Linked DNA regions of Homo sapiens. The protein of the gene in region 2 interacts with the protein of the main gene of each other region in a pairwise test. Each region holds a gene or a part of one and is shown on either strand. Other genes may lie near its edges.

The links.
Region 1: the proteins of AP1M1 (region 2) and FKBP7 interact in binary tests that used the Homo sapiens proteins (3 or more experiments, as listed by UniProt).
Region 3: the proteins of AP1M1 (region 2) and TRIM41 interact in binary tests that used the Homo sapiens proteins (3 or more experiments, as listed by UniProt).
Region 4: the proteins of AP1M1 (region 2) and MEA1 interact in binary tests that used the Homo sapiens proteins (3 or more experiments, as listed by UniProt).

The regions. Positions count from the first base shown.
Region 1 is NC_000002.12:178,463,143-178,468,604, reverse strand, and holds the end of FKBP7 (peptidyl-prolyl cis-trans isomerase FKBP7 isoform a precursor), read left to right. Parts: intron 1-2,673; coding exon 2,674-2,835; 3' UTR 2,836-4,941; downstream 4,942-5,462. UniProt on the Homo sapiens protein: PPIases accelerate the folding of proteins during protein synthesis.
Region 2 is NC_000019.10:16,221,901-16,228,925, reverse strand, and holds part of AP1M1 (AP-1 complex subunit mu-1), read right to left. Parts: intron 2,506-7,025; coding exon 2,379-2,505; intron 1,379-2,378; coding exon 1,236-1,378; intron 790-1,235; coding exon 718-789; intron 157-717; coding exon 1-156. UniProt on the Homo sapiens protein: Subunit of clathrin-associated adaptor protein complex 1 that plays a role in protein sorting in the trans-Golgi network (TGN) and endosomes.
Region 3 is NC_000005.10:181,218,323-181,226,300, forward strand, and holds the start of TRIM41 (E3 ubiquitin-protein ligase TRIM41), read left to right. Parts: upstream 1-4,958; 5' UTR 4,959-5,677; coding exon 5,678-6,490; intron 6,491-7,978.
Region 4 is NC_000006.12:43,010,942-43,018,600, reverse strand, and holds MEA1 (male-enhanced antigen 1), read left to right. Parts: upstream 1-4,654; 5' UTR 4,655-4,787; coding exon 4,788-4,815; intron 4,816-5,211; coding exon 5,212-5,486; intron 5,487-5,572; coding exon 5,573-5,675; intron 5,676-5,979; coding exon 5,980-6,131; 3' UTR 6,132-7,314; coding exon of another isoform or gene 7,315-7,452; 3' UTR 7,453-7,458; downstream 7,459-7,659. Other genes in the region: KLHDC3 (kelch domain-containing protein 3), read right to left, coding at 45-258, 385-456, 633-748, 906-1,082, 1,255-1,408; PPP2R5D (serine/threonine-protein phosphatase 2A 56 kDa regulatory subunit delta isoform), read right to left, coding at 7,315-7,452, 7,604-7,659. UniProt on the Homo sapiens protein: May play an important role in spermatogenesis and/or testis development.

The DNA.
Region 1 (5,462 bases), on a different chromosome or scaffold from region 2:
TGTTGCCCATGCCAGGGTGCAGTGAAGTGATCATAGCTCACTGCACCCTTAAACCCCTGGGCTCAAGCGATCCCCGCAGCATGCCACCATACCCAGCTAATTTTTTTTTTTTTTTTAAGAGATGGAGTCTCACTACATTGCCCAGGCTAGTCTTGAACTCCTGGCCTCAAGTGATTCTCCTTCTTCAGCCTCCCAAAGTGCTGGGATTACAGGTGTGAACCATCATGCCCAGCCCACTACTATATTTTTAACTTTGGGCCTAGACTGCTTCTTTCAGAGAAAATCATGAATGTTTCAAGTCTAATACTATTTATTGAATTCTAATGTCTTACTTAGTCCCACTGACGATACTCCTGCTTAAAATTAGTAAACCAGCTGTCTCCCCTCTTAACTAGTTAGGAGACATTTAAAAATGTGTAACTCTACCACATAAGTAAGTAGTAAAAGCTAACTAGGTTGATTTCAAGTAATAAAAATAAGTCTTTTTCTCTGTTTCTTTTTCATCTCCCTCTCCAATCCTTTCCCCACCCAGTTCAACTTCTTACACCAGGATATTAGTAATGACTTTCCCTTCAGGCATCTTGGTTGGCCAACAGTGGAAGAAGGAGAAGGGAACATGTCCTGTTCTTAAGAAGAAGGGCAGTTACCGGGGTGGCAAATGGTTCCCAAAGTGTACTTCTCTATTGACTCCTTATCACCCTTTTTTAGAGTGAATAGCAGCTGCAGATGAATTCGCATAGTACCCAAGAGCTCAGCCTATGCACACAGACCACTCATTATCACAGGCACACCAAGAGCCACGTTCTGCAGTATGAATACTCCTCAGTAAGACATTAGATGATCTTAAGTTCTTTTCTGGAAAATAAAAATAGAGAAAATCCAAAATAGTAATCTACTTATCTACAATTTCCCCAGATGTCTATGTGATATCAGCTGCTTTATTGCCAGATGGATGAGAGTGATTTTCACTAACTTGAATAACAATAGCTGTCTTTTATTGATGGCCATAATCATTATTCTAATCCTCATATCAATCCTACAATATAGATACTTACTTATCTCCTTTTACAGATGACAAAACTGAGGTTCAGAGAGGTTAATTTGCAGAAGACCACACAGCAAATCCAAGACAAAGCCTGAAGTAGAAACACGAACTAAAAAAACAAAAACAAAAACAAACAAACAAAAAACTTTATTCATTGTCAGAAAGATTAAGTAAACTATTTCATCAGTGTACAGGAAGGAACATTTAAAAAAGAAAAAGAAAAACTTTCTTTAATATTAATAAAGACGGAAAGGACGGGGGAAATACAGTATTTTATTAAATTAAAAAGTGGAAATAGTGTGGAACCCATTACTAGCAAAATTAAGGTCATGTTCTTACCCACTGTCTTTTTGTACCTCTGTACTGTAGTTTACTGGAAAAGGAGTCAAGTTTAAGCATCAGCAATATTGGTTATGTAAAAATAATTTGACTTACTTAGAAACTGAGAAATATTTGAAGGTATTAAAAATTGTTTACCCCTACATAGGATTGCTAAGCTTTGGCTGGAAGAAAAAAATGTGTCTGCCTCATGTAGGACCAAAGTCCCATTTGAGAACAGTTGATGTATCCTTCATTAAGGTCCACTGATTGCTCTAAAATAAAGTCAACTTGCAATGGGTTGACCCTGGGATATGTATTGCTAAAAACCTCTCAAACTCTAGCTTTCAAAAATACTCTTGCCTCTATAATGCCAGCCTTACTGAACATTACCTCCAGATGATTGTGCATTGCTTTCTTTAGTTATTATAAGGATTAGTGCTTTCCAAAGGAAATACAATTGTTACACATATAATTTTAAAATTTTTATAGTCACATCTTAAAAAGTAAAAAGATACAGGTGAAATTAATTTTAATGTTATATCTTCACTCAATATATCTATAATATTGCCATTTCAATATGAGATCGATGTAAAATTATCAATGAGATAACTTTTTGAAGTCTTCAAAATCTGTTATATATTTTATATTTATAGTAACATATCTCATTTTGATCTAGCCATGTTTCAAGTGCTCATTAGTCACATGTGGCTAGTGGCTACTATATTGGACAATACTTTTAATGTGTGTTTGCATATAGAAATTTTATATAATTAGTGAATACTTCAGGATTCTTTATTTGACATTATTAAAGAGATTATTATAGTTATGTAGACTTGGAGGAGAGCTATAGAAGCATAGAAAAACTTAAAATACTAAATTTTATTTCAAACCCCATGGTTGTGTTTTATTGATTATACAACATATTCATTAGTTTTAGAGATTATAGAAATGCCAATTGGGTTTCTTTCACTAATGGCAGTCATGCGTGATTTTCCTTTGATAATAGGAACAGCATGGATTATTAGAAAGCATTTAGTTTCAACAAAATTCAGTTTAAATATTAATCTTCGAGTATGTACCACTAACCATCTATCATCTTAGGGAAAACTAATTTGAAGACCTGTTTCTCTCCAAAACATTGCTTCAAAGAATAAGAAAAATAAAACCTCAAATAGCTTTTCATACTGTTGTATCATTTACTGTAAGTAATCTTGCACATGAGTTTCATTATTATAACTATTCCTTAAAGTTACTGGAAATTCACTGTGATACCTTTTAATTAAAGGAATGTTATTTTGGCCTTCCAGATAAACCTCTACTTGCAAAGGGAATTTGAAAAAGATGAGAAGCCACGTGACAAGTCATATCAGGATGCAGTTTTAGAAGATATTTTTAAGAAGAATGACCATGATGGTGATGGCTTCATTTCTCCCAAGGAATACAATGTATACCAACACGATGAACTATAGCATATTTGTATTTCTACTTTTTTTTTTTAGCTATTTACTGTACTTTATGTATAAAACAAAGTCACTTTTCTCCAAGTTGTATTTGCTATTTTTCCCCTATGAGAAGATATTTTGATCTCCCCAATACATTGATTTTGGTATAATAAATGTGAGGCTGTTTTGCAAACTTAACTTGCAGGAATGGTATGACTGTGTTTCCTACTGCTTTATTCTGTAAACAAGAATTGTAGCACCATGAAACAGACCTCTGGGTCCCAGTGGGCATTTTTTCCCCTTTCAGGATGTAGGAGGACATGTATAGTATGTCAAAAACTGCAAGCTTTTCCCAACTTTAACCTTACCAGCATGTTAATATCCAGTTTTTTTATAGTTTAAAAGTTAAAGTGCCTCATATTTTGAAAATATCCATTAAGGACCCAGGAATTAGCATTTCACTTGTTTATACATTTTTATAACATTATGAAGACGATATAAAAATCCTAGAACTGAAGAGTCTTCCTTTGGTATATGTGCAGGAAGATAGTTGTATATCTCTGTTCCACAAAGAACGCAACACAGTCTCTAAACTTTTTGGTGTAAGCTTCTAGCCTTGGGTATTTTCCAGTGGGGAATGTTTAAAAATATTTGACCAAACCAAAGACTTTTTGCCTCTTATAGCAAGCATAAAGACTGTACTGCCTGGCTTTTGTATTCCTTCAGACATTATTGTAAATGTGCAACTCCTCTTCCCTCTTGTAAACCTTTATAAGATGTCTGCCACCCCAAGCTTTTGTCTTGATAGTTTTAAATTGATGCCATGAAATTTCTTAGTTTTCGTTCCCTTTCTCTAGTTATCTCTTTCCTTATGTCACCTCATTTCCCATCATTCTTGTCACTAATGATGAATGATCATTACAAATTGGTATGCTGTCAAATTTTGATAAATGTGCCAAACAAAGGAGGATATACAGTGCCATGGCAATTTTGTGTCATGGTCAAGTTATGATATCATATGACTTGAGAATAGTATGTAAGAGATGCTGTAGAAGATCACGTTGGTACCAAAGAAAGGGCACATGTCTATCGGAACATAGATTTTGCATACTGCATGGTATGGTCAGGCTTTGTGTCCACACCCAAATCTCATCTTGAAATTATAATCCCCATAATTTCCATAATCCCCACATGTCAATGGAGAGACCAGGTGGAGGTAACTGAATCATGGGGGTGGTTTTCCCCGTGCTGTTCTCATGCAATCTGATGGTTTTATAAGTGTTTGGTAGTTCCTCTTGCATTCATTCTCCCACCCGCCACCTTGTGAAGAAAGTCCTTGCTTCCCCGCCTTCCACCATGATTGTAAGCTTCCTGAGGCCTCCCCAGCCATGGGGAACCATGAGTCAATTTAACCTCTTTCCTTTACAAATTACCCAGTCTGGGGCAGTTCTTTATAGCAGTGTGAAAATGGACTACTACACTGCATATATAGGAAAGTATGGTCAGACAGTAAATAGCTCTGTTCAAAATAATTGAGTTCCAAACAAGTAAAGTTTTTTCTACCTTCTGAAACTTGCTCTTTCCAAACCATTGTTCATCCTTTAACTTCTTTACACTATCAAAAATTCTATTTAAAAATAGAGGGCTTTCAGATGAGTACATACAAAAACAAACAAAAGTATACATAGGGGTAACACAACCATGAGATTAGTAAATAATACATATGGCTAGCACATAATTTGACACCTTATAAAACAAGAATCTGTACTATCTTTTCCTTCCTCCCAATATTTCTTCATTTCTATGCTCAATTTTCTAATACTTTTTCACATGCTTAATCATTTACTCTTTCATCGCCTTCCCTCAAAAAAACCTGCTCCGTTGAAGTAAACTAAGTAACTCAATATTCTTTATTTTGGTTTGGAACCTGTCTCAATTTTTTGTATCCATATTAAGAAGTCACCCTATAATCTAAACTTTGTAATTCTAATTTTTTTGTCCCATTATCATACAAAGTGCTTTTAAACTTGTTTTTAAAAAATGACAGATAATGCCACATGAATAGGAAGATGATTCATTCTAAAACTTGTATTTACATAATTAAAAATAAATTTATAATCATTCTACATACAATACAGTGTACAAGTATTTCATATATCTGCATGATTGCCTTATGCCTTCATATGCATATATGTGGCATTGAGTGCTGTGACTACATTTTGAGTTCTAGAATTTTTTTTTTTTTTTTTTTTTGCAGGTGCAAGATTTAATAGAGTGAAATAGAGTGAAAACAGAGCTCCCATACAAGGAGGCGACCCAAAGGGGGTTGCCATTGCTGGCTGGAATGCCTGGATTTATATCCTGATCCTTGTCCCTCCCGCTGTGCTCTCAGGCAATAGATGATTGGCTATTTCTTTACCTCCTGTTTTTGCCTAATTAGCATTTTAGTGAGCTCTCTGATTGGTTGGGTGTGAGCTAAGTTGCAAGCCCCATGTTTAAAGATGGATGTAGTTACCTTCCCAGCTAGGCTTAGGGATTCTTAGTCGGCCTAGGAAATCCAGCTAGTCCTCTCAGTCCCCACTCTCAACAGGAAAACCCAAGTGCTATTGGGGAGGTTGGCCGATGACTGCTCTAACTGCTTCCTGCTGAACTGG
Region 2 (7,025 bases):
GAAGGACTTGATGGACCACACGATCTCGCTGTTCTCGGGGACCCACTTAACGCTCCCCACCGTCGTCTTGAACTTGGGTGAGTCGGCATCATTGGGCACGGGAATGTGGATCTCCACGTTGTTGGCTGTTGACCGCCGCTTGAACTGGCTTTTGGCCTGCAGGCCAGGCCAATGCGGCCCGGGGTTATGGAGGCCAAGGTGAGCTGGCCAGCCTCTCCAGGACACATGCCCCTCAGCCTGGCCCGGGGGATCCTCCCTAGCCCCGCCCCTGGCCCCACTTCTCCAGGCACTACCCACCCCTTCTCCTGCCCTCGAGACTCTCCCAAGACCTAATTTCAGGAGTTTCATCTTCATCCTCCTGTCTGCTCAGCTTCCAAGGCTCCTCATCCCTCCCTCTGCCCTGCCCTCCTAGGACAATGTCTATGTCCCAGGGCCAGGCTGCGCTGGACAGGGTCGCTGAGGGGCAGAGGTGCTCCACCTGGGGGCAACACCTCTGGGAGTGTCCTGGATGCCTGGCTACAGGCCCCTCCCCACAAGTGGCACCATCTAGGAGCAGGCCCCAGGCGGTGTCCCCTCAGTGTCAGGTCACTCCTGCATCTGAGGCCACAGTGAGGGTGCACGGATGGCAGCCCTACGGCACCCCCAGCCCTCGGTTAGGCTCCTGGGACGGGCCAGAGACACCAGAAGGCCCTCAGTGGGTGGCCTCGGCCCACGCACCTTGATCATGTACTCGATGCGGCTGTGGGAGTGCTTCTCGATCACCGACTCGATCCATATCAAAGGCTTGACCTGCCAAGGAGGGCAAAGAGGGTGCTCACACCTGGCCTTGTTTGACAAAGGCCCATTTCAGAGGGGAAACCAAGGCCCAGGGCAAGGGACCATCTGCCCAGGTGTGGGCCCAGAGCCCTGCAGGGAGCGTACAGCCAGCGTCAGGGAGGGCCAGGGCAGACAGGCCGAGGTAGCCGGGAGCTACCGGGGAGGCCTTGGGGCAAATGCAGAAAACATGACCAGGGCCTGCTCTGGGGGCTGCCTGGGAAAGGGGTGGTGGTGGCCAAAGGGGTCTGTGCCCCTCAGAAAGCTCGGAGTCCCAAGTCCTCAGACTCCATCTCTGCAGAGCCAGGCAGCTCATGGAGCGTGGGGTGGGGCTGGCCCTGGCGCCTGCCTGGGCTTCACCTCCTGGAGGTGAAGGGGAGGAGGAGTCTGCCGACAGCCCAGCCCCAGGGTGGCGCACTCACGTGGGTGTTGAGACGGTAGGACATGAGCTCGAACTCGCCGTCGGGTGGGATGAAGGAGATGGTGCGGTCATTCTCGAAGCGTGATAGCCGCACACACTGGTGGAACTTCACATCCTCCAGCTCCACGGATTTGCTTTTGCCGCCTGGGGTCAGGGGTGAGGGTAGGACAGATCTGGGCCCTCCGGGTCACTATCTCAGCAGTACTCCTACCACCTGCAACCCACCCCGGCAGAGCAGGGCCCCCAGTCCACGCACTGAGAGCAGCCTGGGCCACAAACACCAAGGGGGCTGGGTCCCAAGACAACTGCCCCATCACTCCTCACACCCCTGGGGTCCCCAGGGGCAGGGCTGGTGGGTCTGGTTCATGCTGAGTCCCCAGCGGCCATCCCAGGGCCCAGCCAGGGGACCTGCTCAGGACACGTTCACTGAATGATTGATCAGTGGACTTGGCTGGGGGATGGCTCGGGGCTCCCCAAGGGCTCAGGCCCTGGCATCCACGGGGTCCTGGGTCCTACCTTGGTTTGCCACCTCACTGAGGGCTATGTGGGTGGGGCCCTGCCCAGCCCCAGGCGGGGAGCTGCCCTGATAGACTGATGCCCGAGAAGCCCTCACCGGGCTAGGAACGGGGGCATGCCCAGCCACTGCACCCTCTTCCAGTGGCCTGTGACAGCTGAGTGGGAGGCACAGTTCACAAAACCAGGCCCTGGGCCCCTCTGCCCCCGCCCTGCTGTGGGAAGTGTTAGAGGCCAGGCGGCGGGAGCGAGAATCACCATGCGTGGCCTTCACACGGCCCACACCTAGGGCCCAAGGTGAGGGGAGAAACCTGGCCTGGGAGGGAGAGAGCAAGGCCTTAGCCTAGGCCCCAGTGCCCCAGGCAGAGCAGGGCAGGGTGCAGGACCTGGCGTGTGAGGCCGGGTGACGGGGGCCTCCCAGCTGGACTGGAGGATCTTCACTCCCCTGCACCTTCTATGTCCAGGGAAGGATGAATACTCTACACAGCTGTCTCAAGCAGTGTGAAGTGCTGCTCAACCAAGTGCTTGAAACCAGCTCGTTCCTCCGCCTGGCCCAACCCTGCCCTAGGCTGTAATGTGTGTGCCTGGTGAGGCCATCCTCATGGGCAGGGCCCTTGGCAAGGGTACTCACGGCCCGTGTTGTCAAAGAGGACCTTGTCGTTGAGGCCCAGGCGCAGCTCGGGCATGCCCGAGAGGAAGACTCGCATCTTGATGGAGCCCACGATCTCGCTGCGCAGGACATTGCCGTTGGCGCTGACCTGGGGGTGGCGGTGTGGGCGTGAGGGGAGGTCCCCAACTCACCAGCCACTGCCTCCTACCACATCATGTGACCCTCTGGCCACCCCACTCTCAACGCCCTTCTCACCTCCAAGCCCATCCCTCTCCTGGGCATCCCCTGAGCTGGGAGAGTCCCAGCTGTGGCTAAGGTCTACCCCTAACCCACACCAACCCACGCCTGGCTGAGGGTCCCCAGGCTCACCCCTCCAGCCTTCATGCCGAGGCCCTGTGGACATGAGGTGGACACTGTGGGTCCTGCCCTCTAGGCCTCAGGCCACACTGGGACCTGATGATGCGTGCCTGGAGCCCCCTCTGAGGGTTCTCTATCAGGTACCAGTCCCTCCCTCCCAGGAGCCCCCTGAATGCTCCGGGCCGGCCCGGCAGCTGGTCCCCACGCTGAGTCAGCTTTGAGAGTCCATGAGCTCGGCTGGACCTGGGCCAGGACCCTGTGGTCCCTGCTCAGCCGATGGGCTGGGCTGGGCTGGGGTCTCTTGAACCAGGCCAGACTTGCTTTTCTTGAAAGCTGTTTCTCCTCTTGGCCTCCCAGGGAGGCCACTGGCCCCTCACCCCCCAGGGCTTATGAGAGATGGTGCTTCCTGAGTCCTGACCCCTTCTTGCTTCTCAGGGCCACCCTGAAGTGTGATAACACTTGATCCAAAATAATCAACTTAAATCCAGTCACAGTGGCTAACACTGACAGCATTTCCACTGCGCCAGGCATTGCTCCACACACGCCTCGACAACCTCTGGGGCAGGGACTGTGGGGAGATGACCTGAGGGGCTGTAACCCACTGCGCATGCCGAGATGCATCTGAAAGTGCAACTGAAAATCCACACCGGGGCGACGGTCCTGCACCCCCTAGCCTGTCCTGCGTGAGCCAAGATGCTGGAGCATCTCTTCTTGCATCCATTTTAGAGGTGAGGAAACAGGCACAGATCAGAGGCCCCGTGCTGAGGGCACAGAGTGACTGGCAGAAGAATCGCTGGGGCTGCAGCCCTGGCCACCACTGCACACTGCTATGCTGCACGAGGCCATGCTCACACCAGCAAGTGGGCCAAAGGCCACCGACTTGGATACCTGGGCCCAGATGCTGGCTCCAGCCAGGCTAACATGTGCAGGGCCTGCATTTCCTGTCTGCAGAGTGGCAGGAGAGTCTGTGCAGTCTTATGCATGATGTCCAAAAAGCACTGGGTAGACAAACAAAAGCCCCTCACCAGCTTGCCGCCTCTGAGGGAATTGGGAAAACTGAGGTGCCAAGCAAATGACAGCCCTGGGAGGGGCAGGGAACCGGACATGGCCCCAAGGGCTCCGGTTCTGTCACCTTCCCCAGCCTCACCTCCTCGTGCTGTCCTGTCCTCATCTCGCAAGCGGCTCCCTGATCCCATGGTGCACAACAGCTTCCCTGCGTCTGCCTGCTTGTCTCTCTCTCTCTCTCCCTGCTGGGGGAAGCCACGTGGGGCTGCGCGCTGCCGTGTCCAGCACCAGAAACAGCGTGTGTGGCAGGAGGTGCTCAGTGGGCAAGCGGAGGCTCAGGAGCTCGGGACCCTCACTGGCCGGGGCTCCAGGAGCCCGAGCATTGGGATTTTGCCTGCCTCTTTCTCGGAGGGCCCTCCACTCCACTGTGACGGCCCCTAATTCCCCTTGGGTGCTGCCTCCCCCTCAGGGAGTTGGGACTGGCCCTGGCAGCCAGCTGTAACTGAACACATGAGGTCGTGAATGCCGCGAGAGCAGGCCCAGGGAGTGGAGCTGAAAAGCTGCCCAGCCCACGAGGCTGATCTCGGCCCTGCGGGCAGCAATCAGAACCTTCTCAGCTGAGGTGTGACCAGCCACGCAGAGCCGGTGCCCTTCCCAGGGCGGGTGCTGAAGGGATGCTTGCTCAGGGCCCGGCTGTGTAAGTACCAGGCTGCACTCAGATGATCGCATCTGGAGGCAAATGTTGACCCAGCCACCAGCTCTGCAAGCCACTTAGGAAGGTGGCATCCTGACAGCTGCCCTTGTGCTGACCTGTTTGGAGGAGTGGGATCCTTCCGGGCGGAGCCACATGCAGCAGCGCACTGTGGCGGGGACCCCCGCAGCCCTAGCGCTTTCCTGCTCGACTCTCTCTAAGCTGCCCCCTGGGACTTGCCTTTGCACCCCACAGCACCCAGATGGACCCTGTTTTCGGCTCAATAAACAATCAGACAAGAGTCCCCAGGGGAGAGGGGAATGTGGTTAGCGAGGCCACTGTCCCGTCCCGGAAAGTAAGAAAGCGAAGAGGTCTGCACGGAGTGCGCGAGACAGTCTTTCTGGGCAGCACTCTCCTTGGCAATTCCATGTCTGCAGCCTCAGTCCTCCAGAAATCCTGGCCCAGGTCACGGAGACACCCAAGTGCACACGTCTGGGGCTGAGCAAGCGTGCTCAATGCTGCACTGCCAGTGGCCGTCAGAAACGGGACCTGAGTGACCTGCATGACTGGATTGGCTGAGCCCATACAGTCCACCCACACCGCAGGGATGAGGCCAGCGTGAACACAAAAGAAAGCAAGCGGCTGGTGAGGCAGGTCGGCTGGCGCCCCTTCCCCTGCCACTGACTACAGCTCTGAAACCTGGGCAGGAGGCTTGGCAGCTGCCGGAAGACTGAAGACAGCAGCAGGTGGACCAGGGAAGAGCCACGAATGCAGAGTGTTCCCACCGCCCCCCACGAGAAAGTGCAGCAGCAATCTGGAAGCAGAAGTGTGCACCACAGAGCACACGAGAGCTCAGCAGAGCCTCCAGGCCTGGCTCTGGGGCCAGAAGAGGAACTCCTGACTCTCCTGGAAAACACAGAAGCCCCCCATCTCCCCTGTTCCTCATGCCCCAGGCCCTGTGGTGCCAGCTACTGTTCCGAGGGGGTGGGGCAACCGTTGTCCTTTTCTCTCTCTGTCCTCTCTCCATGTGGGCTGGGAAGTGGGCCCAATGGCAGACGTGTACAACAGTAAACCGCAAGGAATCAGAAAAGTACCAGGTAGACAGCACAGAGCCAGAAGCTCAGGAAAGTCACCCCATGAAGTGGTTTATGTCTCCAGAACTCTCTAGAATCGAGCATCTGTGAATCCTGTGCATATACCATAGTTTGACTTACGAAAGAGTTTGAGAACTGAACTAACCACTCGGGTCCCAGAATGACCACTGGGCAGTGCACGCCCAGGAGATCTGACCAGGAAATGGCACGGGGGCTTTAAAAACTGACGTGATGCTCATGGCCTACAGGTTGGGGATTGGAACTTGTGGCCTGAAAGTAAGATTGGCTGTTGGCTAAAACAAAAATATCAATATTTCCCATATAGCTTAAATAAGACCTAGAGTATCACCACATAATGCTCAAAAAGTCCAGGATGCAATCCAAAATTACTCAGCATACAAACAACCACGAAAATGTCAACTTGCCTGGAAAACCCAATCAACCACTGTCAACACTTCACAGATGTTGGGATTATCTGATGAAGACTTTAAACAGCTATTTTTAAAATTGCAAATGCTTGCAACAAATGTTAAAATAGAAAGTCTCAGCAAAGAAACAGATGATAAAGAAGAATCAACCAGGAGTTCGAGACTAGCCTGGGCAACACAGCAAGTCCTGGTCTCTACAAAATAAAAAATAAAAAAAAATTAGCCAGGCATGGTGGTGCGTGCCTGTGGTCTCAGCTACTCAGCACACTCAGATGGGAAGATCACTTGAACACACGAGGTTGAGGCTGCAGTGAGCTATAACTGCACCACTATACTCCAGCCTGGGCAACAGAGTAAGACCCTGTCTCAAAACAAAAACAAAAACAAAAACAAACAAAAAGAGAAGAATCAAATGGAAAATTTTTAAAAATATAGTAACTGAAATAAACAACTTGCTCAATGGACTTAATAGCAGAATGGAGGCCAGGTACAGTGGCTCATGCCTGTAATCCCAGCACTTTGGGAGGCTGAGGTGGGAAGATCACTTGCCCCAGGAGTTCTAGATCAGCCAGGGCAACACAGAGAGACCCTCATCTCTACAAAAATTTTTTTTTAAAAATTAGCCAGGCTTGGTGGTGCACACCTGTAGTCCCAGCTACTCAGGAGGCTGAAGCAGAAGGATCGCTTGAGCCCAGGAGGTTGGGGCTACAGTGAGCCATGCTTGCTCCATGGCTCTCCAGCCTGGATGACAGAGTGGGAACCTATCTCAAAAAAAAAAAAAATAATAATAATAATAGTAATAATAATAATAACAGAATGGAGATAAACAGGAAAGGGCCAAAGGACCTGTGAACTTAAAGGCAGTTCAATGTAAATTATCCAATCTAACAGAGAGAAGAAAAGATAGAATAAAATAAGCAGCCTCAGGGACACATGATATAATAACCAAAGGTCTTTCATGTCACTGGAGTCCTGAAGGAAGAGTAAAATGACAAAAACATATCTGAGGGCTGGGTGCGGTGGCTCATGCCTGTAATCCCAGCACTTTGGGAGGCTGAGGCAGGTGGATCACCTGAGGTTGGGAGCTTGAGAC
Region 3 (7,978 bases), on a different chromosome or scaffold from region 2:
AACCACTACACTACGGAAACAGATGCGGAGAGGTTACTCTATGACTTTTATAAGTGTTATAGTCAACATCCAGGTGTCGGCTTCACCCATGGAGTCATGGCCCTTAGATCCATTCTTCCCCAGAACACCAGTCTCCTTGTGGCCCTGCGTAATGCCGTTTGTCAAACTGTAAAGCGTGACCTCTAAGGGTACCCCAGTCACTTCCAGCAATTAAAAGCAAAACAAGGCCGGGCGCGGTGGTTCACGCCTGTAATCCCAGCACTTTGGGAGGCCGAGGCTGGCGGATCACGAGGTCAGGAGATCGAGACCATCCTGGCTAAAATGGTGAAACCCCCGTCTCTACTAAAAATACAAAAAAATTATCCGGGCGTGGTGGCGGCCGCCTGTAGTCCACTCGGGAGGCTGAGGCAGGAGAATGGCGTGAACCCGGCATGCGGAGCTTGCAGTGAGCCGAGATCGCGCCACTGCACTCCAGCCTGGGCGACACAGCGAGACTCCGTCTCGAATAATAATAATAAATAAAAACAAAACAAAAAACTAGCGAGCATCGCGGGAGGAAAGGCAAATGTACCTTCCAAGGCTTAAGACTGGATACGCTTCCCTAGTGGTTCCTTTTCTTCCAGGGAAGACAGCCAGAGGTTTCAATTTTCACATGATTTGTGCTCTACGGACAGTAATGACAGAGAGGATTCAAAAAATGCAAAATGCATTTAAAGCACACGATATTTAAATATATTTTGTTAAAATGTAAATTAAAGTAAACATAAAAATCAAAAAGTGAAATTATTCTTATGTCCTTTCAAAAATTTATTTCTATGAATTATGCATAAGTATTAAACTAAACGGCAAAATATAAATTAATGAATATCAAAATTTTAAGTCGGTTTTTAAAGATAAATCTGAAATTTTTTTTACATTTTAAAAGTTCAATGAAAAATTTTAAGTATTTTTATAAAAATAAAACTCGCCAATCCTAGCATCCAAGGTATGTACGTATGTAGAGTTGGAATACGCTTAACGCCTGTCATATGGAGATCTGCATATATGTAAATTTAAAAGTAGTAGCGATTGCTTAATATTGTGAAATGTTTTTCCGCCGCCGACGCCTAATTTCCGAATACCTGGATTGCTTGGAAGCGAGGCGCAGTCCTGCTGATCAGGGATCCTTGCTGCCTCTGTGACCCCGAAGGCCCGCTCCTTTCGGCGCAGGGCGGGAGCCCTTCTTGTGTGCGTCTGATTCTCTGGTCAAGGTCACCACGGGCCTCCAGGTGGCCCAATCCATGGACGCCTTCTCTTACGAGACCATGTGCTGAACTGGACGCTGCCAATCTCCTTTGCACTGTGCGGCACCCTAGGCCTGGGTGGGCGCTTCGCTGCAGGCTTTTCTCCCATCCCGTCTCCGCCTCCGAGCGCCCAAGGCTGACCCTGGAGCGTCACGTCGGCTGGCAGCAGGACCCACACCTTAGCTCCGTCTCTGGTTCCAGCAAGAACTGTTCTCCCAAGCTTCAGATCCACGCGTGTCTTGGGCAGTTTTTCCAGGTATCTCACAGCATCTAACGCCCAACCGTTCGAGACCTAAGTCATTGTTTTTTTCTTCCCTCCCCTCCCGCATCCTCAGCCTGTGATCTAGGTTGTGGAACTACCCAAATCTATCGCCGCTGCAAGCCTTGCATCCCGCTCCTTCACCTGCGTCTCCCTCTGGCTGCCGCCTCACCCGGCGCCGGCCGCCTCCTGTATGGACCAGGCCTGTGTCCTTCCAGCCCCTGTCTCCGACAGTCTTACTCCCCCTCATACTCCCTGTTTGCATCACTCCTGAAGGAACCCCCTGAAATATAAATCAGAGTGAGTCCCTCAGTCTCCCCAGGCCCCATCACCACAGGGTTTGGGAGGAGGCCAAAGATCCCACCAGGTTCATGTGTGTGTCGTGCTTCTCCGACTGTTGAACGCTTGCCGCCTTTGTGCCCGGAGCAGCTTGGGTCACTTGCCTGGAGGGGCATCCCAAACCTGACCTGGCCAGAGCGGCGACGGGTGGAAGGGGTGGAGAGGAGAGAAAGCAGGAATTGTAGCAAAAAGCTCCAGCGGGCGTTCCCTTGGCTTGCTAGAGGACAAAGAAGAGAAGCCTGTCCACTTCATCTCCACTTTAATGAAAAAGCCAGAATCCTTTAAGAATGTTTTCCAGTCCCAGTGAAGGTGGTAAAAAATAACCCTGAAATCACAGTCTGCAAAAGAATCCGAAATAATTTGTGCAAGACGAAATGTCAAACTTAAAACTCTTTGAACACCAGCTTTGAACACCAGTAACTCATGTGCTAGGATTGTACTAGCGACTCTGCCTATTTACAAACGTTGACCAACTTCTGCCCAGACCGCCCTCACAGACTATATAGCCCTCATAAGTCCCCGCTTTGATTTACGTCTGAGACAGAAGACGATGCTATCTTTTGCTCAGCGAGATTAAGCCAGCTTTCTATGATCAACAGACTTCTCTCGTGGTGTGGTGCGTATGCGGAGGAGACTTCGACAGCTTAAAAATACAAAACGGGGCCAGGCGCGGTGGCTCACGCCTGTCATCCCAGCACTTTGGGAGGCTGAGGCAGGAGGATCACGAGGTCAGGAGATCGAGACCGTCCTGCCAACATGGTGAAACCCCGTTTCTACTAAATACAAAAAATTAGCCGGGCGTGGTGGCGCGCCTGTAGTCTCAGCTATTCGGGAGGCTGAGGCAGGGGAATCACTTGAACCCGGGAGGCGGAGGTCGTAGTGAGCCGAGGTGGTGCCACTGCACTTCAGCCTGGAAACAGAGCAAGACTCCATCTTAAAAAAAAAAAAAAAAAAAGAAAGAAAGAAAGAGAAGAAAAAAAGAAAAAAGGCCTATATTTGCAGGACTAATTTCGAGGCCATCCTGGGCTCAAGCGATCCTCCCGCCTTGGCTTACCCAAAGTATTGGGATTACAGGCATAAGCCACCGCGGCGCATGGCCCGTTTTTATCTCTATTTATGTATGGGGGAAACGTGGAGGCTGGTATTTGTGGGGCAACATCTCACAAAAATAGACTCTTAAAGTCAAGAGCATAAAAAAGAATATACGGAAGACAAGTGTCTCATATGACACAAAGCATCTTTCTTGACAGGGAGTCGAAAGCAGGTCGTAGCGAGACAAAGGCGGAAGCCTAACCACTAAATCTCCCAGTAAAGTGGGAGTGAATCAGATAGGTTTTGACGCTCACGAACGCCTGGGGTCGTCCTGCGGTCTCACCCCAGTTTCGATAAACCACATTGTTCCCTCCAGCACAGCAAGTCTCACAGCAAGACGGGGGCAGGCCGTCTGGTAAACATAAAATGCCTAATATGTGCTGCCCGTGGGCGAGTGGCCTACAGCAAAGGGTCATGCATGCACGATAGCCCGCGGTGCTGGCCTGCAGGAATTGGTCCACAGGTACCCGCCTCTCATTCTTTCTTTGAGAGTTAGCGAGGGTGCAAACGTTGTGAGAATTCTGCTCGGGGCCTTCCACACACGGATCGGAGAACACCAGGTTAGTCCAAGTTCTAACACCCACTGTTGGTGAATCTGCTACCCACTAGGTCTTGGTACAGAGAATACCATTTGTGCACTTAGGTAACACAACTTGCCTTAACCTTTCCAAAAAGCGAAATTACGCCCAACGTGGGGCTCGAACCCACGACCCTGAGATTAAGAGTCTCATGCTCTACCGACTGAGCTAGCCGGGCGGCCATGTCTGTATTCTAACTTTGTCTCTGAAGATGGAGGTTACCCTCAGAGGTGTAAGCACGTTTCCACTGTGCAAATACTAAGAAGCGCCTGCGCCTGGCTCTGTTCTAGGCACTAGAGCCGAGGATCTGAAATCTACGGATTCCTGTACATGTGATGGCTGCATAGGCTTCAGAAGGGAAGAGCAAGAGATTAGGTGAGGGGCGAGACCTGAATTTACTTGAGTAGTGCTCTCCTTCAGTTTTGCCCCAGTCCGTGTTCCTCCGAAGCGCAGGGACACACATGTCCTTCCTGCCACGTAAGGCCGGCCTCGGGAGAGAATCTCCCGAACAGACCAAAACGTGTTTCCGCCCGGTTTCGAACCGGGGACCTTTCGCGTGTGAGGCGAACGTGATAACCACTACACTACGGAAACCACCTTGGCTACTTTCCTGCCGGCATCGTCCTGAAGACACACACGGCTGAGACGGCCGGGATAGCTCTAGGCAAGCGCCCTTGTAGGACAGGCCCGGGGACCCCTGCCGCGGCCGGCTGAGCGGTGTCCAGGTTCTGGAGCCGGACTTGTCCACCGCAGCCGAGTCCGCAGGTCCTGTAATGGCCTAGCATAGTTCACCCACGAGGGTTCGTGGTTTTTGGCGCGTTTGATCTGACATACTCAGAGGCCTGACCACCCCCCTAGGAAGCGCGACGTCCATCTGGAGTTTTCCCGCGAGCCGCCTTGAGAGCAGGGTAAGTTCTGCAGGCCCAGCCCTGGCGTCACGCTGTGTCTGGCACTCACTGGAGATTCTGTACATAAATCATGGCCCCGTCATTTTTCTCGCATCAAACAACATTTATTTATTTATGTATCGACATCAAATCTCTATAAAAATAAAATTTAAAGAGCTATTTAAGCATCAAGTATTATTTCTACCGCACAAAGCATCTATTTTTGCAGAGATGCTGTGAGAATGTAGATGTAATGATTCGTCACCACTTCTTCACTGCTGGGCAGTTAGGGAAGTTCATCTAAACCATGAGACAGTGTCCGGTTGGCAGTTTCTACCTCGGATGCGAAACGCCGACTACAGTTGGGGAAGGGTGGGGCGTCTGCTGCCCTAACCCGCGAAGCGCTTTCTCAGGCCCCGCCCCCGGTCCGACCCGGACGACCCTCTGAGTCCTCCACAACGAAGTCGTCTGCCTAGAAGGGCCGGAAGTACTTCAGGGCGCGCCGCGGACCCACCCCCTCGCTTCCGGCATCGGCTGTGGGGAGTACCGGCTGCAGTCGGCTGTGCCGGGAGGGTAGGATGGCGTCTGGCCGATGCGGTGATAGCACCGAAAGCAGACGGCCGCCAGGCGCTCCCCCTACCCCCCGAAGTTTCTCCCCAGCGGCGGGGGATGGGGGTAGGCGGTTCCTCTGTTCTTTCTGCGTTCCCCGCGGCCTCTTACCACAGAGACGCGGGCCTCCACCGTCCTAGCCCTCCCGCCCTGTTCTCTAGTGCGGACTAGAGCGTCTCCTCGCCATTTCCTGTCGCCCTGGGGCCCCGCGGGGAAAAAGGGGGAGTAGCAGGACAGCGGAGGGAAGTCGCGAGCTTAGGTGGTGTGTAGACGCCGGAAGTGTTGGGAAGGAGGCCGGAAGCTAGGGGCGGGGCCAGGAAGTGAGGAGGGGCGGGGGTTTATGAGGAGTCCAAGGGAGCATTGGGGCAGACTTGTACTCAGAGCCACCTGAGGGACTTGGCGGTGGCGCCCAGCACTGTCCCCTCCCCTCGTAGAGACACGGTTGTCGTTTGGGAGTAGGGAACACTGTGTTGGGGTGGGTTGTCGGCAGGACATCTCTCTGGCTGCTCTTGGGGCGAGGTGTGGAGGGGCAGGGCTGGGGGTGGAGCCGGGTCGCCAGGGCGTCGGTAGGGAAGACCCCCGCCCCTCGCCCCCCCACCGAACCTCTACACTGGCTGGCTGGACACTAAGATGGCTGCCGTTGCCATGACACCCAACCCTGTGCAGACCCTTCAGGAGGAGGCGGTGTGCGCCATCTGCCTCGATTACTTCACGGACCCCGTGTCCATCGGCTGCGGGCACAACTTCTGCCGAGTTTGTGTAACCCAGTTGTGGGGTGGGGAGGATGAGGAGGACAGAGATGAGTTAGATCGGGAGGAGGAGGAGGAGGACGGAGAGGAGGAGGAAGTGGAGGCTGTGGGGGCTGGCGCGGGGTGGGACACCCCCATGCGGGATGAAGACTACGAGGGTGACATGGAGGAGGAGGTCGAGGAGGAAGAAGAGGGTGTGTTCTGGACCAGTGGCATGAGCAGGTCCAGCTGGGACAACATGGACTATGTGTGGGAGGAGGAGGACGAGGAGGAAGACCTGGACTACTACTTGGGGGACATGGAGGAGGAGGACCTGAGGGGGGAGGATGAGGAGGACGAGGAGGAAGTGCTGGAGGAGGTTGAGGAAGAGGATCTAGACCCCGTCACCCCACTGCCCCCGCCTCCAGCCCCTCGGAGGTGCTTCACATGCCCTCAGTGCCGAAAGAGCTTTCCTCGGCGGAGCTTCCGCCCCAACCTGCAGCTGGCCAATATGGTCCAGGTGATTCGGCAGATGCACCCAACCCCTGGTCGAGGGAGCCGCGTGACCGATCAGGGCATCTGTCCCAAACACCAAGAAGCCCTGAAGCTCTTCTGCGAGGTAGACGAAGAGGCCATCTGTGTGGTGTGCCGAGAATCCAGGAGCCACAAACAGCACAGCGTGGTGCCATTGGAGGAGGTGGTGCAGGAGTACAAGGTGAGAGAAGTACAGAGAGAAGATGGGAGTTTAGTGGGGGGATGGAGAGGAAGTAAGGGGACCTGGGAAAAGGAAACATCTCTTCACCCACCAAAGAACCTCATGGTATTGGTGAGCCAAGTTTGCTTATCTAAGCACTTACTGCCACCAAGGTGGATTAGAATGAGAAGGATTCTGTACACAGAGCAGATGCAGTGAAGACGACCAGGGAAGGATGGCTTCCTCAAAGCAAATAGAGCAAAGCCGGTGATGCCAGATCAGGTCTCTAGGGCTTTACCAGAAGTCTCGTTTTCTTTCGGGTGAGTCTTAAGTCTGTCCTTGACGGAGACACCTAGAGATGGAAAGAACTGGGGGCTTCAAAGGACAAGAAAAGGCTCAGAAGCAGGAACACAGAGATAACTGCTAGTGTCAGTGTCAGACCCAAATGCTCTGCACTTGCCTCCCAGTGGGTTCCCCACCTACCACGATATGGCTTGGTTCTGTCTTCAAGGACTTTGGTTGGCTCTGTGTCATTCTTATGCACTGACTAGAAAGCAGGAGCTTTTCAGTCAGAAGACCTGGCTCTGCAAGTTGCATTGTCAAATCTTGATTAAGTCTGTGAGTGTCTTTGGACTTTAATTTGTCCAGGATTGATAGTTAATATTCACTGGACATTTATATGTATACCAGGCACTGTACTAGGCACTTTTCATGGACTGTCTCGTTAAAACCCAGACAACACTGAGTTTGATATGTTTTCCATTCCCATTTTATAGATTGGGAAACAAAGTCAGAGAGGCTTTAAGTACCATACAGAGGGCCACAGAGCTTCAGTAATAATTGACTTAGTTATTTACTGTCCCTTCCCCTGGTGTATACTAACAACGCCACCACCATTTGGATGTCTGTTGTTTGACTTTTCTGATGTGACTTTCTTGGAGTCTGATTCTAGTTTGACAAATACCTTGCCCCTACTTCTCATTTTGACTCTTCTTTGGACATAGGTAAAGGAGATTTGTTTGCAAGGCAGCCAGCACAAATAGCACTACTTAGTGAAGGCCTGGATGGGTTTGAAGCAGTGGGACCAGGAGGAGGAGGGGGTAGCCTCTGTGTGGTCTGCACAGAGCTTTTTTTGTTTTATAACTCATGTTTTCAGACCTTCTCCTGATTCCTGCTATAACTTCATTTAGGTATTATTTTCGTTACCCCAATTTTAGAGTAATGTGTCTAGGGTTTCTCAGCTCTGAGTGGTACAGCTAGACATACCTACATTACCTCATCACAAGTAACAATTTCTTTTACAGAGTGGCCTTTTTTTTTTTTAATTTTTTGAGACGGAGTCTCACTCTATTGCCCAGGCTGAAGTGCAGTAGCATGATCTCGGCTCACTGCAGCCTTCACCTCCCGGGTTCAAGTGATTCTCCTGCTTCAGCCTCCTGAGTATCTGGGATTACAGGCACTCGCCACCACAGCTGGCTGATTTTTGTATTTTTAGTAGAGATGGGGTTT
Region 4 (7,659 bases), on a different chromosome or scaffold from region 2:
AGAGGGCAGGAAGGGAACTCCACAGGGAAGTAACAAACACTCACAGGCCGAGTGGCTCCGGCGCCCCTCAGGCAGCACTGGAGTCGGGGGACAGTCCAGCCAAGCCTCAGTTCTGGTGTCAAAGACTCGAATGCGGTTGCAGTAAATCTCATTGTTGGAATGGAATGGCCCAAAGCGGTCGGCACGGCCCCCAAAGACATACATGTGACTTCCCAGCATTGTGGCTGAGTGGAAGTCCCTCCAGCGTGCAGGGCTGCCCTGGGCAGAGGCAGAGAGATGGTGGAGGGGTCAGCACAAAGACTGGAAGAGGATCTCCTCTGACTGAGCTTCCTATCATTGCTTCAACAGAGGGTGGGGATTTGGGAAAAAAAAGAAAGAGCAGACCTTTGTACAGATAAGAGTCCATGTCATGGTGCTGGTATCTAGCTTGTGAATGTCATTGGAAAAACAGTCCGCCTGAGTAGGAAGAGAAAAGGAGGAAGAAAAGAGGGAGCCAATGGTCACTCTCTGACCCTCCATCCCTCCCCTCAAAACCTGCAAACAAGCCAAAGCCTCCCATTTCACCATCCTAAATTGCCCTTCCCCTCTTTCTCAGTCCCACCCTAAACCTCTTATTTTATTCCCAGACCTACCTGCTGCTCGTAGCCCCCAAAAATGTACATGATCTTGCCTAGGACACAGGCTGAATGTCCATCCCGGGCCCCAGGAACTGTCCCTGACACTCGGGGTGTGAACCACTTGTGCGTATCTGAAGGAGATGAGAAAATGGCTCAACTAAGCACCCTCTATGACAGTCCCTCCTCAGCTCTGGGGTACTCTACTCCCCAAGACCCCCAACCCAAACCTTTCTTGGGCAACTGAGGCAACATCTGGAAGGACATAGCCTCTCTGAGATCCATACTCACTGACGTCAAAGGCATAGAGCACATTGCAGGCCCCTTCGGTGTCATTCCGCCCGCCCCAAAGGAGGACTGTGTCGTCGATGAGGACGGTTGAGTGTCCATAGCGCATGTAGGGTACCACAGGAGCTTGCCCACGGATGGCAGACTTCACCGGGGGCAGCTTTGTCCAACGCAAGGACACTGTGGGCACAGCTCTGCTCAGCCCTGGGAACCTCCCTCCAGGCTGTCCACTTTTCCCAAACCAGATGTTTGTCCCCAATCCCCTTGGTCCCAGAGACCACAGCCAAACCTCATCAGCAGCCCGTTCCCACCCTGATGTGGGGACCCAGGGACAGCCCCAGCATTGGCTTACCTGCATTGAAAATGTGCACATCTATCTGACGCAGTGTCTCATAGTCTTCACCAGAGCAGTAACCCCCGAAGGAGTATACCCGATGCCCGACAGCCACTGCAGCATGGTTCACCCTGCGGGGCCCGCCCTCCAGGTGCACTGTCCACCGTAACATCCCCTGGGCCACTGGTTACAGCAACATGCCCCCCCGGCACGGCCTGCTGCCTCTGCTATCTGCACACAAATTGGGGCCACGGGATCCTCAGGCGAGGCTTCTGCCCAGCTCACTGTGACTCTGCCCAGAACCAGCCTTTGCCTCCAAGTGTCACCCTGGGGGCCCTCCCACACTACCCCTCCACAGGGGCACTAGTCTCAGCTCAGGTGGCTGGCCCTGCCCCAAGGGAGCTGCCGAGGTCAGGGAGCAGCCTGGGCCCAGTGTTCTCCAACAGTGAAGGGTGGGGCCACCCCCACCTGATTGCCAGCTCAGAATCTGCATATCATGGTCACAACCTACTCGTGGAGGCTCCACTCTGTCCCTGGCTTGGCACAAACTTGAAGCCCCCTTCCCAAACGGTATATTCTCTTGTCTCTGCTCTGCTTACTGCCACCTCTCTAAGAATCTGTGTTCTTTGAGGTGGGGAAAGGGATCTCAAAATACTCACAGCTATTAATAGCCCAGCCAGCCTCAAACAGTCCATTGAAAGCTGGCATGAGTGCCTCAAAGCAGAAAAGCTTTCAGGCTTTTAGAGTGGAACAATCCCCCTACCCAAGATAGGGCGGGACTGATCCAGGACAGGGACCTCCATGTTACCGCGGTTGGTTAGCCCCTCACAGGGAGCTCCTGTCAAGCTGAGTTGTTGTCATTGGGGTCACCCAGGGCCCCCCACAGGCACAAGGAGTTCCTTTGACAGCTGTGCCTGGTATGCTGCCAGGACTTAAGCCAGAAAGGTATGTGTATGCTTAGGCTTGGGGGATGGTGATAGAGGGAGGGGTTTTCTCCTCCTGCCACTTCCCCATCCCTGCTACTGTGGTAGAGAACAAGCCATTTCCAGTAGAAAAGAGAGAACAAGCTCTTCCACAACTTGGGTTCCTGAAAGGCGGATAGAGGTGGGAGTGTGCAATGCAAAGGGGAAGGGGCTGGGCACAGTGGCTCACACCTGTAATCCCAGCACCCTGAGAGGCCGAGGCAGGTGGATCACGAGATCAAGAGACGGAGACCATCCTGGCCAACATGGTGAAACCCGTCTCTACTAAAAATACAAAAATTAGCTGGGCACGGTGGCGCGCACCTGTAGTCCCAGCTACTCAGGAGGCTGAGGCAGGAGAATTGCTTGCACTCGGGTGGCGGAGGTTGGAGTGAGCCGAGATCACACCACTGCACTCCAGTCTGGCGACAGAGCGAGACTCTGTCTCAAAACAAAAAAAAAGGGGAAGGGAGGCAAAAAATGCCCTTGGGCAGGACAAGAGAAAGATCCAGCATGAGAAGTCATGGTCTTTTTTTTTTTTTTTTTTTTTAGATGAAGTCTCGCTCTTGCCCCCAGGCTGGAGCGCAATGGTGCAATCTCAGCTCACTGCAAACTCTGCCTCCCTCCCGGGTTCAAGCGATTCTCCTGCCTCAGCCTCCCAAGTAGCTGGGATTACAGGCGCCTGCCACCATGCCCAGCTAATTTTTGTATTTTTAGTAGAGATGGGGTCTCACTATGTTGGCCAGGCTGGTCTCAAACTCCTGACCTCAGGTGATCCACCGTCCTCGGTCTCCTGAAGTGCTGGGATTACAGGCGTGAGCCACCATGCCCAGCTGGTCATGGTCTCTTAAACACAACCTGTCAACCTAGTGGCACGTACACCTGGGTACATCTGAGGTTTTTTCAGGCAAATCCTTGCAACTGACAATGCTTTTGCTGGCAAGCATCTCCTGAGTTTGGGTGTATCATCATCTGCTCCCTGTTTAAGAAGCCCTGGCAGAGGAAAGGGCCAGGCAAAACCTCAGGCACTAAAACAGCTCAAATAAGGGAGGCCCCTTGCAGGAAAGAGACATGGCTTTCAGCTGGCTTGCTAGTCCCACCCACCCAACCTCCCCCAACTCCACACCCTAAGCTTTAAATAGCCATGGGACCCATCCTGAAATAGCCCCAGCAGGAAGCTACTCTCACTTCATTACTCCCGCTCTCCAAAATATCTTGGGTCTGGGCTTGTGGAGACTGTTAGGAGGTCGATGGGCTTAAGAATGGAAGTCTTCCATCCTCCCTTATATTCTCTATTCTTCCCTTCAGATATGTCAAGGTAAAGTAAAATATGCACAGGAGAGGAGATAAGCAATTCCAGCCAAAGGTGGAGAAAAAAAATTTTAGTTTCTCTGCCATATAAACAACTCAAATTCAAGGAGAACAAGCCCCCAGGCGCTCAGGGGCTCCTCTTATCCCTGGGTCTCCCCAGTCCTCCATCACCACCAAGCATTTTCAAACTTCTTCTATTCCCTTAATGTATCTACCCGCCTGGTCTCTTGCATTTTTTATTCCCCATTTCTCGCCCTTCTTGATCTCGTGAGAGCTTTGCAGTTTTCTCATTTTTCCTTCTCCTACCATTCCAAGCTCCACCCAACAGCCCTCCATTTTCCCACCTCCACTAAGGAAAGAAAAATTAGCATGCACTGACCACGATACCCCTCTCTGCATATGACTCTATCCCTGTCTTCTTCCAGACATTCCGGCCTCCCCTAGCCCACCACGCCAGACACCCCTCCCCTTCCATTATGCTCAGCTTCCCTGTTTTCATGGCCCAGTCTTCCTTCCCATTTCCTTCATTGCTTCCTCCAGACACCAGGTCTCTCCTACCCATCTCCTCGCCATCCTCCCCTAGCCCTGCTTTCCCCATTAACACTCTCCTTTCCCATCATCCCCCTAGCTCCCTCCCCACCCCCACCTCATCACTCTCAGGCCCCTCCCCCGCCACTCCAGCTCCAGACAGCACGTCCTAAGCCCCCTAATTCTCCCTTGCCCTTCTACCCATCCCAGGCTACCTGCCAGGCCGAGCCGGGGCGGGGCCGCGGGTCCTCGAGCTGCCTGCAGCCTAGAACCCGTTGCGCGCCAACCGACGCCTTAGTCCCCAACGAGATAAACACAGCCAAGCTCGGTTCTTCCGGCGGGCAGCTGTGCGCGCACGTGCAGTCGTAGCTAAGTGCCGGAGGCATTTCGGGACTTGTAGTCCATACGTTTCCTGAGGGACGAGAGGGCTGAGGAGTGGGCAGGGGCGTAGGAGAGATTCTGCGCATGTGCAAATATGTGTCGAGACCGAGGAGGCCACTGGGTAATGCAGTCCTTTGTTTTTTGGGCTGGGAATGACGGAGGCGGGGCAAGGGGCGGACTCCTCGTCCTCGCCAGCGTCAATCATGGATATGGGGCGGGGCTGGAGGACTAGGCACCTCTGCACGTCCTGCCCCGCCGGAAGTGGAGGCCGCGGGCTCTGAGCGGGTGAGGCGCGCGGGAACACCGGCGCCGGGATTCGGATGGGGGCGGGTGGGGGACGCTGCAGCTGGGGCCATTTGAGGGGAGCCCATGGGGCCTGAAAGGCATCTGTCAGGCGGTACAGAGGGGGTCCTCTAGGAGAGGGGAGAAGGGGGCGGGTACGCCGACCTGTTTAGGGGAGTCTGATGACCCAGAGTTCCCAAGTCGCGGGGGAGGCGTGGCGCGGGGAGCCGGGGTTCTGGAAGGGGTGTCTTTTAGGAGGTGGCAGGGCCTCCGGTTGGGCGTTTAACTAGGAAGTGGCGGAGCAAGTTGGTGGGGCCTGGTTCAAGATAAGAACCCCGACTTAGGAGGGGGAGGAACGAGAGGCTGGAATTGGGGCGGAGGGGTGGAGGATGCAGGAGCCTCGGGGAGGAGCTGGTTTTTTGCACGCAGGAGACTACAAGGAGATGATGAGAGGATGAAGATGGGCCTGGTTTCATCCGATCCCTGTCCTACCGCCTCCCTGTTCTTGCAGCCCCTGCCCGGATGGCAACAGTAGTTCTAGGAGGAGACACCATGGGCCCTGAGCGTATCTTCCCCAATCAGACTGAGGAACTGGGACATCAGGGCCCTTCAGAAGGCACTGGGGATTGGAGCAGTGAGGAGCCTGAGGAAGAGCAGGAGGAAACGGGGTCGGGCCCAGCTGGCTACTCCTACCAGCCCCTGAACCAAGATCCTGAACAAGAGGAGGTGGAACTGGCACCAGTGGGGGATGGAGATGTAGTTGCTGACATCCAGGATCGAATCCAGGTAGGGTGGAGGAGGGATGGTTCCTGAACAGGTGAAGCTGGGCTCCCTGAAAGCCTAGACCCAAACGGTCTTCTGTGGCTCTGCAGGCCCTGGGGCTTCATTTGCCAGACCCACCATTAGAGAGTGAAGATGAAGATGAGGAGGGAGCTACAGCGTTGAACAACCACAGCTCTATTCCCATGGACCCAGGTAAAAGATCATTCTTTCATTCTGGAATAATTACTAAGGAAATGAACTGGCATGAGTCAGTAGAAGGAAGTTTCAGAGGAAGACCCTATCCTAAAAAGATAGTTTGTAAACTAAGATTTTGTAGACTTCAGAGTCCAAGTGAAATGCTCTTTTGCTAGCTTTGGGGATGGGCAGGCTTGCCTTAAAGTAACAAGGTGGATTTGGTGACCCTAGCAGCCCAAGGGCTCTGGGTTGATTCGGGGATTGGGGAGGGGAGCTGGTCCCATTATTTCTATGCCTGAATGGCCTCTGGCTCTGATTTCAGAACATGTAGAGCTGGTGAAAAGGACAATGGCTGGAGTAAGCCTGCCTGCGCCAGGGGTTCCTGCCTGGGCTCGGGAGATATCGGATGCCCAGTGGGAAGATGTGGTACAGAAAGCCCTCCAAGCCCGGCAGGCATCCCCTGCCTGGAAGTGACCACAGTGAGAGCTGCCTTATATTCCTACATTCCAGGCCAGAACCAGCACAGGACTGAACACATCCCTGGTTGTAATGTCCATTTCCATCTTCCCCGTCTCCCTTTCCACATCAAGGCACATCAGACTTCTCAGAGACCCACTTTATTCAGTTCTGTACATATGGGGACATCGGTCCAAGCCCAACCCACCTTAGCATGTATCACTCTGTGGAGAATAAAGCACCCTATGTACACAGCCAAAAGCCGCACTGCCTGCGCCCCTGGAACCTGGGTCCGGCCTTCCTCAGCCCCTGGCCCCTCCAAGGTACCTATAAGGGACAAGAGAAGGCCTGCCCAGCATAGCACAAACAAGGAAATAAATAGGTGTTGGCAGGAGCCATGCTTGGGGCACCGCTCCCTGCTTCCTTCTTTCTAGTTTTGGGAACCAACAGCACAGAAAAGCAGTCAGCCCCAGGGTGGTCCCTTCCATGTCTGTGACCCCAGGGCTGCTGCTCACCAAAGACAGGGCACGGGGTAGGGTGTTTATTCATCCCTCCCCGGCCCCACTTGGTCCATCTGGGCCCTATATTCATCAGTTATTGTCCACAGCCTATACTTTTCTCCTTTTGACCTCCCTTGGTCAGGCATGGGGTAAGAAGAAATAATACAACCCTATCTGCCAGCACACGGCTGGGACTGGGGGGCCTATTTGTGCTGCAGGGGGGTTGGCTTCCCTTCAGCTACTCTGGGACCAATGGGGCTTGACATAACTTTGGTGAGAATAATCTCCTGCTGTTCCCTACATGCCTCTGCAGGGGAGAGAGAGGAGGGGAGATACCTGGCGTTCAAATGAGGATGAAGGGAAGAATAGAGGAGCGTATGTATTCCTGTGTGTACTTCTCAGAGCAGCCTCAGGTAGCTGTGGGTGAGGAGCAGGTAGGGGACAGGCATCCCCAGGTTGTCTGAGCACTAAGCATCTTAGTGCTCAGCCTGTACTAGCCACAGGGAGGCATGAACACCTTTTGGGGAGAAGAGGGACCATTCTGTGGGTGTCCCTGCTTCAAGTGCCCACATCCCCCTCCCTTGAGTAGCTAGAGAGGCGCTGCCTTCCCCCAAGACAGCCAGTAGGGAGCAGAGTATGGAGGGCCAGGGCAGTGTCCCAGGGCTGTGTGGGCTGTGGCCCTGTGGTAGGAACGTGAGGGGTCAGAGAGCCTCCTGGCTGGCAGTTAGGAACTCTTCCGCCCGCTTGTGCGCCTCCAGTGCCTTGATGGTGTACACGTCCTGGGGCAGCTCCGACTTCCTCCGCAGCAGCACTTTCTCCTTCTTGATGTCTTTTAGCATCTGTGTGTGAATAGGGACAAGGTGAGGAATGGTGACCAATTCCCAGTGAATTCTATTGTTCCGTCCCCTTATTCTTTGGCTCTGCTGTTTCTGTCTCCTCTCCCTTCCAGAGCTATTATTTCTGCTCCATCCCCCTACATTGCCCTCCCACCTGAACAGCCTCAGTCTCCACAGTCCTCTTCAGAAGCTGGATGTCCTCAGCTGTGG